Regions from separate parts of the Homo sapiens genome. Here region 2 is reported to be linked to region 1. The links are microRNA targets in miRTarBase. Many come from high-throughput screens and were not tested one by one. Region 1 holds a microRNA gene; the other region holds the end of a gene's coding sequence.

Evidence for each region. Region 1 holds the annotated microRNA hsa-miR-3684 (UUAGACCUAGUACACGUCCUU, at 2,624-2,644, opposite strand). A microRNA usually pairs through its seed, bases 2 to 8, with sites in the 3' UTR of a target mRNA and lowers its output. Matches are read on the target gene's strand: a 7mer-m8 pairs with bases 2 to 8, a 7mer-A1 pairs with bases 2 to 7 and ends in A, and an 8mer does both.
Region 2: the mRNA of ANKRD23 is a reported target of hsa-miR-3684. Seed matches in the 3' UTR shown: 7mer-A1 at 1,506-1,512.

What each region holds. Positions count from the first base shown.
Region 1 is chr4:98,995,928-99,000,077 of GRCh38, reverse strand. MIR3684 (microRNA 3684) reads right to left here and starts at 2,691; the gene lies at 2,618-2,691. The region is part of intron 1 of METAP1 (methionyl aminopeptidase 1); the gene reads right to left. RefSeq lists an enhancer at 3,162-3,944 and a silencer at 3,686-4,145.
Region 2 is chr2:96,835,953-96,839,952 of GRCh38, reverse strand. ANKRD23 (ankyrin repeat domain 23) reads left to right here. Exons shown (of 9, transcript NM_144994.8): 8 at 128-226; 9 at 309-2,041. The coding sequence ends at 404. It also overlaps a transcript of CNNM3 not described here. Among named protein-coding and RNA genes, the nearest start is that of ANKRD23, 6.1 kb to the left of the region's middle. RefSeq lists silencers at 78-177, 318-377 and enhancers at 1,517-2,071, 2,072-2,628.

The sequences.
Region 1 (4,150 bases):
CTGATGTCTTTTCTTTCATGTAAGGAAATGAGGGCCTACTGTGGGCAAGGCACTTTGGAAAATACAAAAATGAGTAAAACACACCCTCTGTCCTCAAAAAATTCTTACACACAAATGAAAAAGACATACATAAACTATTAAATAGGAAGGAAAACTTCTATTAATAAACACAATCGAACATCAAGAACTCTTGGAAAACTCAATTTTCAAGTAAAACTGGTTGTACTCCTCTAAAGAACAAAAGCTTTCCTTAAAATCAAACATCCTAGGCTGGCACAGTGGCTCATGCCTGTAATCCTAGCACTTTGGGAGGCTGAGGTAGGCGGATCACGAGGTCAGGAGTTACAGACCATCCTAGCTAACACGGTGAAAGCCCGTCTCTACTAAAAATACAAAAAAATTAGCCAGGCGTGGTGGTGCGCACCTGTAATCTCAGCTACTGGGGAGGCTGAAGCAGCAGAATCGCTTGAACCCGGGAGGCAGAGGTTGCAGTGAGCCGAGATCACACCACTGCACTCCAGCCTGGGTGACAGAGCAAGACTCGGTCTCAAAAAAAAAAAAAAAAAAAATTAAGCATCCTAGATAAAATATTTCTACTTTCCTAAACATAAAACAGTATAACAATAAAAAGAGCTAACATTCATTAAGTTTACTAATATGCTAAGAGCTTTACATACTTTGGATTTAGTCTTCATCAAAACCCTGAGATAGGTATTATTAATAGCCCCATTTTAAAAAGATACAGCTGAAAAAGAGAGGTTATTTGCCCAAGTCACATAACTAGTAAATGATGGAGCTGTGATTCAAACACAGCAGTATACCTCTCTATTTTGATGCATTTATCCATTAATTCAAACATTTAATGGCCACCTACTGCATACAGAGCATCATACTGGGAAATGAGAACAGGGCAGTGAACAAGATAGGATCATTCATGAAGTTCACCTTCCGACTAAAAAACAGACATTCTCGGCCGGGCATGGTGGCTCACGCCTGTAATCCCAGCACTTTGGGAGGCCAAGGAGGGTGGATCACCTGAGGTCAGCAGTTCGAGACCAGCCTCAACATGGAGAAACCCCATCTCTGCTAAAAATACAAAATTAGCTGAGCGTGGTGGTGCATGCCTGTAATTCCATCTACTTGCGAGGCTGAGGCAGGAGAACTGCTTGAACCTGGGAGGCGGAGGTTGCGGTGAGTCGAGATCGCACCATTGCACTCCAGCCTGGGCAACAAAAGCGAAACTCCGTCTCAAAAAAAAAAAAAATCCTCATTTTTCTAACAGGTGAGGTAATCATAGATTGCACAAAAGGTCATAAAGGAATAAACAAGGTGGTGTGACAGAGTAACTGGGAATGCCTTACTTCTGTTAATGGTGTGATAGAAAGGCCTCTTGCAGTTTTGTTCTGTTTGTTCCCAAAGACAAGCTGGCCAGACAGCCAGGCCAGGGACCAGAGCAGTAGAAAGAAAGACCTCCTAGTGATCACAGAAGTGTTAAGGAAAATCCCTAATTTCTTCTTTTTGGTTTTTTGTTTTGTTTTGTTTTTGTTTTTTTCTTGAGACGGAGTCTTGCTCTGTTGCCCAGGATAGAGTGCAGTGGTGCAACCTCGGCTCACTGCAACCTCCACCACCCAGGTTCAAGTGATTCTTGTGTCTCAGCCTCCTGAGTAGCTGGGACTACAGGCGTGTGCCACCACGCCCAGCTAATTTTTGTATTTTTAGTAGAGACAGGGTTTTGACATGTTGCCCAGTCTGGTCTCAAACTCCTGACCTCAGGTGATCCACCCGCCTAGGCCTCCCAAAGTGCTGAGATTACAGGTGTGAGCCACCATGCCCAGCCAAGCCCATATTTCATCACAGATGTATAAAGCGCTTAGAATAAGTTACAGTGACTTGATCAAGGTCTCAAGCTGGGATTGGGGGAACAGCTGTGATTTCAGAAGACAGGTGACACTTCGGAAAGGAAAGAATGTAAACATAGCCTTTGGCTAGAGCAAGAGGCTCAGAAGAGGGGCCCTGAATGTGGGGCTGGAATCCTGAAAGCAATGAGGGATACGCATAATCAGACTGCGGGAAAAATAACTTCTGTACAAAAGGTTTTGTTTGATAGGGTTTTTTGTGGGCGTTTGTTTGCAAGGGGAGGAATTACAGTAGAGAAATAAATTAAGAGAGTATGACAACTGATTTGGTGGGAAATTTTAAAAGCTGACCATAGGAGGTGGTAACAGAAATGAAGAAAAAGAGACAGTTGGGACAGCCACTCTGGGAATATTTGAGTGCATGTCTAACAGTGATACCAGAAATATACCTGCAGAATCCAACATGTAAATACCTCCAATCCTAACACACGGAATAAACCCTAGATGTTTTGTTTTCACAAATTTGTCTAGCATTTTTCCACAAACCCCAGTGATTCACCTTCTTTCTACCTGTTTCATGAATGTGGTTTCACACTACCTTTTTAAAATCTTAACAGAAGATTGTAATACATATTAATTCAAAATGCCACCTACTTTTAAAGTTATTCTACTCAGATGGTACAACTGTCAAAAGCAAACACTGTTTCTTAATTTCAGGTCCCACACAGGCCACAACAAGATAGAATTTGGGAATTTTAAAGAATCTAAAGGACGTGTACTAGGTCTAACATGAGTAATGCTCAACATGTTAAACCTAGTACAGGTCCTTTAGATTGTTCGGTAATGCTATTTTTAGATCAAGCAACACTCCTCCACGTGCAAGTTTTTCCAAATTATACTAACAAGGTCAAGGATCATATCCTATCTAAAAACAAGACTGTATAACACAGCTAAGACCTTTTGCAATCGCTTATCTACAAATATTGTGACGTAAAGATTGTATTTATTTATATCTTTACGTTTTTATGTTTTATGTTGGAAAACACTTTTATTATTTGTATTGTGTTCATATATCTGCCTTCATTCTTATTCATATTTTTATTTATGGCAGAGTTAAATCGTACTAGAATCCTTTAAAAAATAAAGGACTTTACATTATAACAGCATTTCACGTTCCTTGGATAATCTGGGTCTCAGAAGAAGCTTGTGAAACTTACAAAGAAAGCTATAATCATCCCCTCTGTACAGTGTAACACTGGAACTCAGAAAGATTAAGTAACTTTACTAATTCAAGATCGCACAATAACTGGCAAGGGCAGGGCCCCAATCAGGCCTTCTCTTTATTCCGGCTCTCCTCCCCACAGGACGCTACCAATTTAATATTTGAATATTCATGTGCCTCTCTTCACTAAACCTGGACTGTAACTAAGAGCCATACTATTGCCGCCCAGCCCTCATCCTGGGTCTCGAAATGCAGCAGCAACACTAGTACTCTTCAGTAAACAGAAACACGAGCACACGCTTCAGTCTGGACCCCATTCAACGCTGGGTTTGCTCTACTGCACAAAACTTAAAATACACTACAGCATTCACGCCTAACCCTCAATGGAACTGTCCTTTTCACTCTGGGAAATTCAGTCACAGGTGACTCATCCCGTTAGCTTACAGTTTTGTAAATTAATAATTTTATATACCGAAAGAAAAGAATGAATTACACAGACCTCTCCCTTCCCCACCCCCAAAGTTGCTTAAGTGTCAAAGCACGGTAGTAAAGCACAAAGAAGTGGGGCTGGAGCTAGCTAGCGTTCCTCCTCTCTGCGACTCCGACGGTCCTCGGGCCACCCATCTCTCAGAGCCCGGCAGGTAGCTTCAGCCCCCCACCCCGCAGGGACCCGACGGACGGCCCGGCGCCTCCAGCGCCCAGACCCGAGCCCCGCCGGTGCTGCGGATGTGGAGGCTCGCGACGCTCGGGCTGCCCTCCTTCCCGGCGCCGCTACCTGCCTCCGGCAGCCCGCACACCTGGCGGCCCCCGCCCCAGCGCGGGGAACCGGCCCCAGAACGCGGAGGTCTAGCGCGGCCACGCGACCCCGCACAGCCCGCTTCCGCCCCAGCCCACATGGCCGCGGCGGGTGGCGCCCCCGCCCCCGCGTGAGCCCAGCGCGGTTCCCGAGGACCCAGGGACCCCAGGAGGCAGGAGGGGGCGGTGGCGACGCGGGTGGGGGGAGGAGGAAACGCGGCCGGGGGGAAGAGGAGGAGCGCGTCCCGACTCGCCGCAAGGGCGGGAGGAGCCAGCA
Region 2 (4,000 bases), not on the chromosome of region 1:
GAGCAGGGACTGAGGAGCCCCAGCCAGGACCAGAGGTGCTGTCTGCTCGGTGACAGCAGCCCTGACCTTCCTGCATGAGGAGGGCAGCACGCGGAGGCAGAAGCTTGACTGCCTGCGTTCTCAGCAGGAAGGGGACACGGCTCTGCACGAGGCCGTGCGGCACGGCAGCTACAAAGCCATGAAGCTACTGCTGCTCTATGGGGCCGAGCTGGGGGTGCGGAACGCGGTGAGTGTGGGCGCAGCCCTGGCTCCTGACCCGAGGGCGGGTGGAGCGCCTGCAAGGGACTGACCCACACCGTTGCTCCCAGGCCTCCGTGACCCCGGTGCAGCTGGCTCGAGACTGGCAGCGCGGCATCCGGGAGGCCCTGCAGGCCCACGTGGCGCATCCCCGCACCCGGTGCTGACCGCAGCACCGCCCCCCGCCGCGCCTTTCGCACTGCCACCATTCCATCCTGTGCCCCGCCCCCGCGTCTGCACCTCTGTGGTTCCTGCCCTCAGCCCTGGTTCCTCCCTCTCTGGCCTGTGCCGCCTCAGCAGCCCTGGCAGAACTGAAGAGCGGCACCGGGCCCAGCAGGCAAAGAGAGAGGCCTCCCTGGCTTCGAGTGTCAGGGGAGCCGCGTTCCCTCCCAGGGCTGGAGCAGAGGACCACAAGGCAGCAGAAAGCGCGGGTCCAGATGAGGGCCAGGAAGGGGAGGAGAGTGAGGGCCAAGAACGAGCCTTAAGGGAGCAGTCCCAAGCTGGAGCCACCCAGGGCTGGGTCTGGGAGTCCTCAGTGTCCACTTGTCCCAGGTTAGGGGGCTTGCCTTGCTCTCTCCAGGGCCAGTCTGTGTGTGTGGGGACTCAGCCCGTGGCCGGCAGATGCCATCCAGGATGTACAAGGTGCAGCCAAGGCAGGCCATGCAGGGGCCGGGCCTGTCTGCAGCTGGTGGATGCCTGTGGGCATGGCTTTCTCTGGGGACCCCATTCCTGTCAGTAGCAACCCTGGCAGTGTCCGGAGCGGCTCTAGACAACTTTGGTCATAGGAACTCTGGAGGTGGGTTCTGGTCATCTGAGGTGGCTACTCAACAGGTTTGAGGCCCCACAGCAACAGAAGTCCAGGACCCACTAGGTTGCCTCAGAAGCCCTAAGACTGATGAGCTGGAGCGCGCATTTGAGAGAAGCCTCGCACCCACTGTGTACTGGCCCCGCTCAGGCCGGCCTGGCACACCGTTGCCTGCTGGCGGCTCTCATGGGGAAGCGCCTGGGCACTGGGGATTGCTTGTGGCCCACTCAACTCTTGGGGCAGTGGCCCGTAACCCTAGTTTGCCTGAGGCCCTTATGTCCCCTTATGTTCCTGGTACTGGAGCTTGAGCTCTTGCCTGGAACGCTGCAGCTGCACCCACCCTGCTTGATCCCACCTGGGAGGCCAGGACACTGAGGAGCTCTGAACCCAGCCCACAGGGAAGCAGAGGAAGGTGAGCCCCCGCCGCCCCCCAGCCCTTCCCATCCCTTCCCTGCTCCCTGGTGGTCTAAGGACCCAAGCTCCCTAGACTTCCTCTTCCACCGTCTGTACGTTTCAAATTACACTGGTGTAGGCCTGTACTGCTGGTGGGGCTGGGCCCCTAAACGCCAGAAAGTGAATCTTAAGAAGCTCTGCCCTAAACTGAGAACCACATGCTGAGGGAAGGGCTGAAAGGTGAAGGCTCAGCCTCCCTCACATGGGTCCTGGGTTACATTAGGTACCGGGCTGATTGATAGGCATTTGGCCATGGTTCCTTTTCGTCTACCTTTGGGGGCCTTCTCAGGCCCAGAACAAGGCTGTTGTTACTATGTGGAAAAGCTGACCAGTGCTGCACACTAGGGGCACACACCTTTCCATGAGCAGCTCCTGCCCTGTGGCGACAGCCAGCGTGCACCCAGACGCTGGTGCCATGGCGAAGCAGGCGTTCAAGACCATGGAGAAGACAACTCCTCATCTAGAAAATGAGGACACCTCAGTGACAAACACACCTTTTTATACCAATCAGTATCCTCTGTTCATTAAAACTGGCTATCCATTACAGCCTAGCCGTCTTTCCTGGGCCGAGAGGAGCCCATGCTTCAGTCACCAGGGACTGTCTGATAGGGCCCACGCCTGTTAGCCATGCCGGCCGACAGCAAGATAGGCCGAGTGCAGAGTGGGCGGGATGCGGGGTCCTGGCACTAGGCTTTTGTGCTTAAGGCACCTCTGCTCACTGACGACAAGGTCAAAGAGCAGTGGTTCTCCACCTCAGCTGCTTATCAGAATCACCAGGAAGGTTTAAAAAGTCCTGATGTCCAGACCCTAAGTCAGAAGCCCTGAGGGGAGGATCCAGGTATTCTCATGCAGAGGCCATGCTTGTCTATGTGGGAAATCCTAGGAATCTACAGAAAGCAGACAACTAGGGAGTCCAGCAAAATCTCGGGTGCAAGATAAACACACAAAAACCTGTTTCTACCTCCTAGAAATGAACATGTAGACACAAAAGTTAAAAATATGTACTGTTTACAATTGCTGAAAAAGGGAAATACTTCGGTTTAAATCTAACAAAATATGCAAGGACTTGTATGCTGAAAATTATAAAACGTGATGAAATCAAAGATTTAAATAGACATGCCATGTTCATGGATTGCTAGACAGAATACAGTAAAGATATCAATTCTCCTCAAATTAACATACAGGTTAAATGCAGTTCCTATCAAAATCCTAGAAGATGTTTTGTAGATGTAGACAAGGTTATTCTAAAATTCATATACAAATTTATAGCAAAAATATTTTGAAAAAGAATAGAGTGAGAGGAGGAATCAGTCCAGCTGATTTCAAGATCTACTATATAGCTATGTGAACCAAGAGTGCAATGCTGGCAGAGGCACAGACACACAGATCGACAGAGCCGAGATCATCACGGGAACAGGACCACACAAATATGCCCAGCTGACTTTAAGGTGCAAAAGTAATTCAATGGAGGAAGGACAGCCTTTCAACAAACGGTGCTGGAGCAGCTGGACCAGCTATAGGATTAAAAAAAAAGAACTTTAGCCTAAGTCTTACACATTATACAAAAATTAACATGGCTCACATGCATACTTAAATTTAAAACTATAAAACTTCTTTTAGGAAAAAACAGATAACCTTTGGGATCTAAGACTAGGTAGAGTTGTTCTTAAATGCAACACTAAAAGCAACAGTCCATAAAGGAAATATCAGTAAAGTGGACTTTATCAAAACTGAAAACTTTTGCTCTGTATAAAACCCTGTTAAGAGGGTGAAAAGATGGCCGGGCACGGTGGCTCACACCTGTAATTGTAGTACTTTGGGAGGTTGAGGCAGGCAGATCACTTGAGCTCATGAGTTTGAGACCAGGTGTGGGCAACATGGTGAAACCCCATCTCTATAAAAAATTAGCTGGGCATAGGCTGGGCATGGTGGCTCATGCCTATAATTCCAGCACTTTGGTAGGCTGAGGCGGGCAGATCATCTGAGGTCAGGAGTTTGAGACCAGCCTGACCAACATGGAGAAACCCCATCTCTACTGAAAATACAAAATTAGCCAGGCGTGGTGGCACATGCCTGTAATCCCAGCTACTCGGGAGGCTGAGGCAGTAGAATCACTTGAACTGGGAGGCGGAGGTTGCAGTGAGCCGAGACCACGCCATTGAACTCCAGCCTGGGCAACAAGAGTGAAACTACATCTCAAAAAAAAAAAAAAAAAAAATTAGCTGGGTGTGGTGATAGTCCCATCTACATGGGGAGCTGAAGAGGGAGAACTGCTTGAGTCCAGAAGTCAAGTATACAGTGAGCCAAGATTGTGCCACTGCACTCCACCATGGGTGACAAAGTGAGACTCTGTCTCAGGAAAAAAAAAAGGGGGGGAGGGGGAGGGGTGAAAAAGATAAGCTACAGACCAATGGAAACCAAAAATCCCATAAAGGAATCTCAAAGAACTCTCAAAACTCAACAGAAGAAACAATCCAATCAGAAAATGGGTGAAAGACAGGAATA